Linked DNA regions of Homo sapiens. The protein of the gene in region 2 purifies or fractionates together with the protein of the main gene of each other region. This does not show direct contact. Each region holds a gene or a part of one and is shown on either strand. Other genes may lie near its edges.

Region 1 (3,655 bases), on a different chromosome or scaffold from region 2:
GCACTTTGGGAGACAAAGGCAAGAGGATCGCTTGAGCCCAGGAGTTCAAGACCAGCCTCAACAACAGGGCGAAACTCCACCTCTATAAAAAATACCAAAATTAGGCCAGGCTCGGTGGCTCACGCCTGTAATCCCAGCACTTTGGGAGGCCGAGACGGGCGGATCACGAGGTCAGGAGACCGAGACCATCCTGGCTAACACAGTGAAACCCCGTCTCTACTAAAAATACAAAAAAAAATTAGCCGGGCATGGTGGCAGGTGCCTGTAGTCCCAGCTACTCAGGAGGCTGAGGCAGGAGAATGGCATGAACCCGGGAGGCAGAGCTTGCAGTGAGCCGAGATTGCGCCACTGCACTCCAGCCTGGACGACAGAGCGAGACTCTGTCACAAAAAAAAAAAAAAAAAAAAAATTAGTTGGACACGGTGGCGTATGCTATGCCTGTGGTTCCAACTACTCGGGAGGCTGAGGTGGATCACCTGAGCCCAGGAAGCTGAAGCTGCAGCGAGCCATGATCGCGCCACTGTACTCCAGCCTGGGCAACAGAGCGAGACCCTGTCCCCCACCAAAAAAAACTATAAACGGGCATTATAGTCTAGTAATGATTGCACCAAAGGATGGTAATGATTCTAAGACATCCCTTTATTCCCATTAGTCATTTAGCAATTAAGTAGCAGCAAAGTTCCAAAATGACTACAAATCCCGGAATTAAATGAATAATTTTGTCTCTAATAGAGACATGTCTAAAAATCAGCTTTTTTTTTTTTTTTTTTTTTTTTTTTGAGACAGAGTCTTGCTCTGTCACCCAGACTAGAGTGCAGTGGCGCAATCTCAGTTCACTGCAACTTCTGCCTCCCAGATTCAAACGATTCTCCTACCTCAGCCTCCTAAGTAGCTGGGACTACAGGTGTGCACCACCATGCCTAGTTAATTTTTGTATTTTTAATAGGGACTGGGTTTCGCCACGTTGGCCGGACCTCAGGTGATCCACCCACCTCGGCTTCCCAAAGTACTGGGATTATAGGCGTGAGCCACCACGCCTGGCCTAAAAATTAGCTTTTTCCAAAAATGTTACCTTAATAGAAAGACATTCAATTCCTAGTATCAAATACTGCTTAGGAAAAGGTCTTTAATTAATTATTTCACTTTAAGTAATGAGTCCTTAGCATTTTTCTCTCAGAGTCCCTTGTTTTTTTCACTTTACAGTAAGATGTGATTAGTATGTTACTTTACAAATATGACGTTAGACGCCAGAATAATGGTTACAAGTGTCATATTTTCCCCACTGTTGCCCATTTAGGGATGGAAACCAGTGGACTGAACGTGAACTCATGCTTGTTTCTGGGATTCTGGTAATCTATTTATTTTGGTTGAGTGGTTACATGGGTATGTGGGTGCTAAATTTGTAAAAACTCACTAAGCTGTACATTTATAATTTGTACATTTTCCCATATACACTCCAGTAAAAGTTATGGTACACTAAAAATTACGTAAGGCAAAAAAAATTTTTAATCCTATTTTAAAATGCAATAAAAGAGAGAAAGCTTAATTATCAAATGTCAGACCATAAATAAAGCTTTGATCACAACCAATAACGTATAGGTAAGAAAGAATACTTTATCCTTGCTCAAAAAGAAAAAAATTAAGTGTTTAAATTAAGATGCCCTTTCAGAGGTTCCAGATTTCTACTCAGATGTATGAATCTCGATTAGCACTGATTTTGAATGTTTCAAAAGTTTGGCAGCTTGTTAATCACAATGGTAAATGAAGCATAAATTAAACAAATACTGTTGACAAATCCAGGAGATATCAACTTTAAAACGTATTCACATTGAAAATTTATACTTGAAAATGTTTCTTCTGGGTTGGTATTGTATCAAGTGACTAATGTGTCCCCACTGAAAATATAAAGAACCAAAATATTAATATAAGCACTCTAAAACCATTTCCATGCTGATTGAAACCATTATGGAAATATTTAGGTAAAATTACAATATTTATGTTAAAATAATATGAAATATTTGCATAACAAAAGCTTTAATATGTGTGATCCATTTTCCTTTGAATTCAAAATATACCTGCAGATGGAAACACACAAAGGTATTAAAAGCAGTTATTTCTGCTGGGAAGGAATATGAAGTCTTTCTTTTCTTCCCTTTCTGATTTTCAAATTGTATAAGTAGCAGGATTAAGCTTATATTTAAGAGAAAAAATTTTAAACCCTCGGTAAATCCATTATGGATATAAAAAAGGGAGAGTCGGGGGAGAGTTGTGGAAAGAAATGAAGTATAGGTACCAGAGATTGAAATCGGGTTTAGGGTATATTTGTAGAAATAGCAATTTTTGTCCACACTAATATTAAAATATTTTAAGAAAGCCATAAGCACAATATTCCCAGTGCCACGATATTAAAGAAACAGTAGCCTGCCATGTGTGGTAAAAATGGTACAGTACTCTGTGAATACACAATATATTTGAATTCTAAGAGAAAGGGAGAAATGTATCAGCACCTTACTAAAAAGAAATCTGACTTTTCTGTTAAACCCCATCTGGCCATAAAGTAACAAAATAAGACAATGGATTCTCTATATTTGTCATGTAATTCCTACTGAAATTTCCTTGTTGCTTCTGAAAAGATTCATTCCAGGGAAATAAACTGCTTTTATAAAAATCACTGTCAAAGAAAAAACATGTCCTTAAACAGGAAAAGGAACGTGGAAACTAGAAAAAAAAATAAAGCAGACAGAATATCACAATTTAATCATTTGGGTGCCTAGTTCTCTGGCTTAGATACCAGTTATGGTGCCCCAGTGCATATAAACTGCTCTAAAGGCTCACAGAAATGCTACTTTTAAAGCAAAGAAGAAATGAATGAGCAACCTACTAGGGTACATTGCAGATGGCACTCAATAAACATTTAATGAATGAGTAAAATCATAAGAAGGTTTAAACATAAAATAAACACCTTCAACAGATAGAGAAGAAATCTGCTGCCTAGGGAGTACCAGACAGAACTGTGCTGATCTCTTCACATTGTTACCGACGAGATTTCACCCACATATCCATTATGCTGTAGAATAGGTATTCACCTGACTAGGAACAGTTTTGTAGCTTATAATTTCACATACTTTCTGATATTTTCAAATGTTAATGATATCTCTACTAACTACTTCTGTAGTAAGCGATCTATTACCAACCTATTATCATGTCTCAAAGTACTACCTTAACTTGACCTTTTCACATGCTTTATGTCACTTGCATGACCCAGGCTTGACAGGGAAGGTATTATTAACCCTATTTTACAGATGAGTTTTTTTTTTTTTTTTGGCTTGAGACTGAGTTTCACTCTTGTCGCCCAGGCTACAGTACAGTGGCACAATCTTGGCTCACTATAGCCTCTGCCTCCTGGGTTCAAGCGATTCTCCTGCCTCAGCCTCCCAAGTAGCTGGCATTACAGGTGTGAGCCACCACGCCCAGCCACATCCTTCAATTTAAGAAAGCTGCTATTTAAAGGACACCTAAAATACAAACCTCTCCCACATACCCACTCTTCTCCAAAATTTGCTCAAATAGAACAATTAGGTACACTTTAAAGTTAACAGGAAATGACAGAAACAAAAATAGCTGGGGTGTGGTATCACCTCTGAAAAAGCTTTCA
Region 2 (2,665 bases):
TCTAGCACATGGGCCCCTCCCTCCCTCAGCCCCCACAGAGGCAGCCTGTGGCCTCCTCCCTCCCGGGAAGTGCAGCCCAGGCTCAGGCAGGCGGGCTGCCATCTGGAAGACCAACGACGGCCTGCGGGTGTTCCCGTGGGGCCGCTCTTTCTTCTTCAGGTTCAATACTCCGTGCACCACGCGGATCGGACCCCTCCACGCCTGGGGGCCTGGACTTGGTTTCCACTTCCTGCCCTGGGACAACCCAGGTGCTGAGCCCCGGCCTGGGGCTGGCCTGGGAGGGGGCTGGACTCTGCTGGGGCCTGGAGAGGCCCAGACCTCATCCCCTGACAACTCTCTGGGCCGTGGGGCCAGACCCCGCTGTGGGGCCACAGGCTCCGTCTCCACTGAGGACTGTGTGCGCTCCAGAACGGCAGCCTGAGGCCTGCTGCGCATAGACCTGGGCCCCAGTCATGGCCTGGAGGGGAAGGCGGGGCCGCAGGCAGGGGCCAGGCAGCGTGGGCCGGGTTCTTGGAAATATCTTTATTGTCAGCAAGGCAGGGAATGGTGGGAACCAGGGTGTCCCGCTGGAGGGTCAGGAGGGAGCCACAAGCCGCCTGGGAGGCCGTATCCGGTCGTTGATCCAGTCCACATAGTTGGCCACGCGGGTGTAGACCCCCGGCTTGTGGAGCCGCCCGCAGCCGTCACCCCAGCTGATGATGCCGTAGAGGTAAGCCACGCCGTTCTTCTCGCAGGCCAGGGGCCCCCCTGAGTCCCCCTGGGCAGAGACGTTGGTCAGAGCCACCCTCCCAGGGGCCTGGTTCAGGGACCCCCCTCTCCCCCAAGTGGCAGCTTGGGGACAGAGGACAAAGGCATTTCTGAGCAAGGGAGCTGATCCACTCTCCTGAACCTCATGAAAAGGTGTCTCATTCCCTGGGGGCAGCACTGGCTGGGCCAGGGCATCCAACCACGTTATTCCCCTTCCTGAAGCCACGGTCCCCCTCTCCCCACCAGCATGAACCCTGTGTGGACCACACAGCCACCCTGTGTCCCAGCACCTCCTGAAATGACTTCTTCACTCCCTGGAAAACTCCTACGCATCACTCAGGACCAGTGCAAACACTCCCTCCTCCAGGAAACCATCCTGACTTCCCTTATCGAGGTCCAGTGACAAGCCCTACCCACTCTACCACTCCTGGGCTTTGTGGCCTTGGAAGAGTGAATTGACTGCCTGGGGCTCAGTCTCCCCAGCTATAAAATGGGGCATAAGAGAGCCGTCGCATGCCAGGGTTGCCGTGCCGCCTGAGCACACAGGCCTGCAGAGCCCAGGACGTGGTTGGGCTGTTGGGCTTATTGAAGGTTGAAGAACTTATTGAAGGTTGAAGAGCTGGCTTGAGAGAACTCGGGGCAAAGGGGCCTTTGGTGCCTAGTGTCACACGGAAAGCACTGCCTTGGGCTGGACAGCCAGGAACTGTCCGGGCTCTGTGGGACCCCAGGCCCCTCTCAGAGCCTGGGTCTCCCCTTCTGTGTGAGGAGGATGCCCTTCCGGCAGGGCTCTGGGTGGCCCTGGGGTGCTGGCCACCGACAGTAAGTGTGCTCCCTGCCCAGGGGTCCCTGGCTGGCCCTGCCAGGTTGGGGTGCCGCCAGGCTCTGGGCTCCCCAGGGGCAAGCATCTCGGAGACTCAGGACCAGCTGAGCCCCCACCAGTCGGGTCCTGGTGGGGCGGGCACCAGCTCACCTGGCAGGCGTCGGACTTGCAGTCGAAGTAGCCGGCACAGAGCATGTTGGGGCTGATGTCGGCGCCGTAGACCTCAGGGCTGCTGCACTTGTGGTCGGCGACCAGGGGGACCAGGGCCTCCCGCAGGGAGCTGGAGTAGCCGCTCACGTCTGTGGGACACAATGCCCTCAGCGTGACACCCACACTGTGGCTGGCCACTGTCCACCCTGGCGGGGCGCTGGGCGCCCCCCTCCCAACTCACTCTCATCCAAGTGGCCCCAGCCCGCAATCTGGCACTTGTGTCCTGCGGGGAAGGTGCTGCCGGGCTCGGGCAGGCAGATGGGCTGCACGAACTGCGAGCGTGTGGCACAGCGGTCCCCTTTCTTCTTCAGCCGGATCAGGACTGATCAGAAGAGTGGCCAGGGTCAGCCTGTGGTGTGCGGGCTGAACGGGAGGCTGTCGGGGCCCGTGGTGGAGGGAGGGTAGCCAGTGGGGTCCACAGGGCAGCCTGGGAGATCCAGAAGGGAGCGGTGCCCTGTCCTCCCTGCCCTGCCCCCAGCTTCCCCCGCACCACATGTCTGCCCAGCTCCTGCCCCTGTCTGGGCCTGGCCTGGGGAGCACAGGGCCCACCTGCCCAGAGTGCAGCCACGACACGCCGGAGCTCACCGAGGTCGTGGTCGCTGGGGTTGAACACCGAGTACAGGGTGTACGGGATGTACTTCTCGATGCCGAAGGTCTGCGTCACGTCCGTCGTGCGGTTGAAGAAGTGCTGGCCCAGCACCACGGAGACGCTGTCCCTGGGGGGGCTGTGCAAGGGGGGCTGGAGGCTGCATGGACCAGCCCTCCCCCAGCCACCGGGCTCACCTCTCCCCACCCCCTGTCAGGCCCACGGAGGCCAATGGTGTGGGACCCTGGTCCCGGGGAGGGGTCTGAGCAGGTGCCTGGGTGTGGGCTGTTGATACTGGGGAG
Region 3 (3,655 bases), on a different chromosome or scaffold from region 2:
GCTAAAACTTTGCTATTTTTATTTGGCTTAGGTAAAAGTGATAAATAGAAAAAGCTCCCATCTTTTTTTTTTTTTTTTGAAACGGAGTCTCGCTCTGTTGCCCAGGCTGGAGTGCAGTGGCACTATCTCGGCTCACTGCAAGCTCCACCTCCCGGGTTCACGCCATTCTCCTGCCTCAGCCTCCTGAGTAGCCGGGACTACAGGCGTCTACCACCGCACCCGGCTAATTTTTTTTATATTTTTTAGTAGAGACAGGGTTTCACCGTGTTAGCCAGGATGGTCTCAATCTCCTGACCTCATGATCCGCCCGCCTCCCAAAGTGCTGGGATTACAGGCGTGAGCCACCGCGCCCAGCCAAAAAGCTCACATCTTAAGAAAATTCAATCTTCCTGTTCAAGCACAGGAACCATCTTCCCATTTCAGTTTCCTTCTAAGGTTCCTCAGTAAAGAACATATTTACATACTGTACATTGATATAAAATCCATACTGGATTTTATTTGAAGAATATTTAGCCCTGAAGTTGATGTGTTATGGGGCTTCGTTCTTAGTTCTCAATATACACTTTTCTATAATGTATAGAACATTGTTTTAAAATCTGTAGATTAAAAATAATCTGCTGCATTGACTTAATTAATTTTGCAAGTTAAATCACTTTAAAACAGTCTATTAGTGTTCTATGAGGGAAATTATGATTGGAAATCAGCTAAAGTTTTGTTTTTGTGTTGCTGTTCATAAAGGGCCCTGTACCCTGACCTCTCTGAGGTTTCCACATCCAGGGTGGTGTGAGGCCTGCGGAGGCGAGAAAGCCAGGTCCCCCTCCTCCCCCGCCAGGAGGGTATGTCCCCATCATCCCCCCACGTCCCACCTCCTCCCAGCCCAGGCCTGGTTACCTCTTTTGCTTGTCCTGCTTGTTCACGTCAGTGTCCCTGAGCATGACGATGAGATCCTTTCTGGGGACTTTACCCCACCAGGCAGCTCTGTGGAGCTTGTCCAGATCTTCTCCACGGACGTGGTACCTGGGCTCCATGAAGGCACTGTCATCGTAGTCTCCCCAAGCGCCCACCTTGCTCTTGCTGCTCCCCCTGCAGCAGGGGAAGCAGTGGCAGCACCACTTGCCCATCTTGTTCCTGAGTGTCTTCATAGCAGAGTCGTCGTGGTCTCCAGAAGCGCCCACGTTGCTCTTGCCACTCCCCCTGCAGCAGGGGAAGCAGTGGCGGCACCACTTGCCCATCTTGCTCCTGAGTGTCTTCATAGCAGAGTCGTCGTGGTCTCCAGAAGTGCCCACGTTGCTCTTGCCGCTCTCCCTGCAGCAGGGGAAGCAACGGCAGCACCACTTGCCCATCTTGCTCCTGAGACCAAATGGCTTCTTCACAGAAGAGGCAGCCGGCATGGAATCAACCTCAACCACCATCTGCTTTTAACAGCCAGGAGAAGCCAGTAGTAGCCAACAGATCGCGTCTACCAACCAGTTTCACCAACTAGCAGGTAACTCCGGGTTTCCAATCTGTTTGAAGAGAAAAGTCAATCCCAGCCAAAACCTGCCAACCCCAGCAGGGGATTCCAGCCCAGCCCACCCCACCCAGGGAAAACCCACACCCACCCGAGGAAAGCCCACGCCCCCCCTGGGCGACCCCACGCCCACCCCAGAAAGGGCCAACCCCCGCCCCCAAGAAAACACCCAGCCCACCCAAGGGAATGCCAAACCCAGCAGAGAAAAGGTCAAGCCCAGCAAAGGAACACGAGAGAGAAAACGTCAATCCAAGCAGGAAACGTCAATCCAAGCTACCAACGCCAAGCCAAGCCAAGAACGCAAAGCCAAGCCAAGCCGCTACAGGCCAGCCAAGCCGTTAAAGCGCGTGCAGCATGCGCGTGCAAGCCATTACAGGCCAGCCAAGCCGTTACGCGCGTGCGGCGTGCGCGTGCAAGCCGTTACAGGCCGGCCAAACCGTTATGCGCGTGCGGCGTGCGCGTGCAAGCCGTTACAAGCCAGCCAAGCTGCTGCCGGGCGTGTGCGCGCGGCGTGCGCGTGCGCGTGCGGCGTGCTTATCTCAGGTGGCGTCAGGGCACGTGGCACAGACACTGGCCGATGCATGCAACGCGCCTGCTTAAGTCTTGGCGCCACGAATGTCACTGACAGCCTTGAGTTCCGGCAAACTTCGTGGGAGTCAGCTGAGCTTTCAAGCCACTGAGAAGCCTCTGGTGAAAAAAAAAAAGCCTCTTAAAGGAGGACTGGGGCTAAGCGTCTGGAACTTGAGGATGCTGACAGCCTCCTTTGAAAAAAGCCCCCAGGACACTCCTGGCGGTGCTGTTGTGCATGGCAGCAGCTGCAGCTGGGAGCTCGGGCTGACGGAGCTGGCTGCAAATGGCCTCAAAATCGCGGAGCACAAGACGCCCACCGAGCCCAGGGCCTGCCTGAGGTGCCTTCAACACCTGCTCCTCTTTGCTCCGCACCCAGAACACGAGGCCATCAGCAAGGGGGCATTTGGGGCCACAGGATTGCAGCCAGCTCCTGCCCCGGTGCAGTGTATACAGTGTATACTGCACAGGTGTTGGGTGCACCAAAATCTCCTGAATCACCTCTAAAGAACTTACTCATATAATCAAACACCACCTTTTCCCCAAAACCCTAGGAAATAAAATGAAGAACTTTTTGTTTATGCATACCACATATTTTTTAACTTTTTTCACAGGTTCATTGAGATACAATTTATATATTATTTAATTCACTCATTTAAAGTATAAAATTCAGTTTTTTAAGTGTATTAACTAGTTAAACAATCACCATGATTTTAGAACATTTTTATGCTCCTTAAAAGAAACTTTGCACCCATTAGCAATCTTTCCCTATTTTCCCCATTCTTCCTTTAAACCTCTCCCAGCCCTAGGCAATCATCCATCTATTACCTAAGAATTTGCCTATTCTGGAAGGATTTGCCTATTCTGGACATTTCATGTAAGTGGAATCATAATAATATAGTTACGTGTGACTTACTACTTTCATTTATCATGTTTTCAATGTTCATCCTTTTTGGAGCATGTATTAATATGTTTTTCTTTTTCATTGCCAAGTAATATTTTATTTTATGGACAGACCACATTTTATTAATCCACTCCAAAATTCATGGACATTTCTGTTGTTTCCTACTTTTTGTTGCTATAAATACTTTTATGTGTAAGGCATTTGTTTTAATTTATTTTTGGTGTATACATAGGAGTGAATTTACTGAGTCATGTGGTAATTCTGTATTTAACCTTTGAAGAACGGCTTCATTTTTCTGCATGTGGCTTGCCAATTATACCAGCAGCATATGTTGAATAGGGTGTCCTTTCCCATTTTCTTGTTTGCTTTGTCAAAGATTAGGTAGTCTGATGCCTCCAGGTTTGTTCTTTTTGCTAAAGATTGCTTTCGTTTTTCAGCATCTTTTGTGGTTCCATTCAGATTTTAGGACTAATTTTTCTATTTCTGTGAAGAATGACATTGGAATTTGACAGCGGTTGCATTTAATCTGTAGAATGCTTTGAGTAGCATTGAAATTTTGACAATATTAATTTTTTCAATTGATATAGGACTTTTTCTATTTGTCACTTTCAATTTCTTTCATCAATGTGCTATAATTTTCAGTATACAAATCGTTCACATCCTTCATTAAAATT

What was found.
Region 1: the proteins of HGFAC (region 2) and PPP3CC purify together in Homo sapiens (affinity purification with mass spectrometry; one large-scale study listed by BioGRID and IntAct). This does not show direct contact.
Region 3: the proteins of HGFAC (region 2) and POTEF purify together in Homo sapiens (affinity purification with mass spectrometry; one large-scale study listed by BioGRID and IntAct). This does not show direct contact.

What each region holds. Positions count from the first base shown.
Region 1 is NC_000008.11:22,443,930-22,447,584, reverse strand, and holds part of PPP3CC (serine/threonine-protein phosphatase 2B catalytic subunit gamma isoform), read right to left. Parts: intron 1-3,655. UniProt on the Homo sapiens protein: Calcium-dependent, calmodulin-stimulated protein phosphatase which plays an essential role in the transduction of intracellular Ca(2+)-mediated signals. Dephosphorylates and activates transcription factor NFATC1.
Region 2 is NC_000004.12:3,447,329-3,449,993, reverse strand, and holds the end of HGFAC (hepatocyte growth factor activator serine protease isoform 2 preproprotein), read right to left. Parts: intron 2,503-2,665; coding exon 2,363-2,502; intron 2,100-2,362; coding exon 1,959-2,099; intron 1,867-1,958; coding exon 1,718-1,866; intron 758-1,717; coding exon 575-757; 3' UTR 508-574; downstream 1-507. UniProt on the Homo sapiens protein: Serine protease that hydrolyzes the inactive zymogen hepatocyte growth factor (HGFsc) to an activated disulfide-linked heterodimer, then initiating hepatocyte growth factor receptor signaling pathway.
Region 3 is NC_000002.12:130,119,104-130,122,758, forward strand, and holds part of POTEF (POTE ankyrin domain family member F), read right to left. Parts: intron 2,196-3,655; exon of another isoform or gene 1,506-2,195; 5' UTR 1,413-1,505; coding exon 892-1,412; intron 1-891.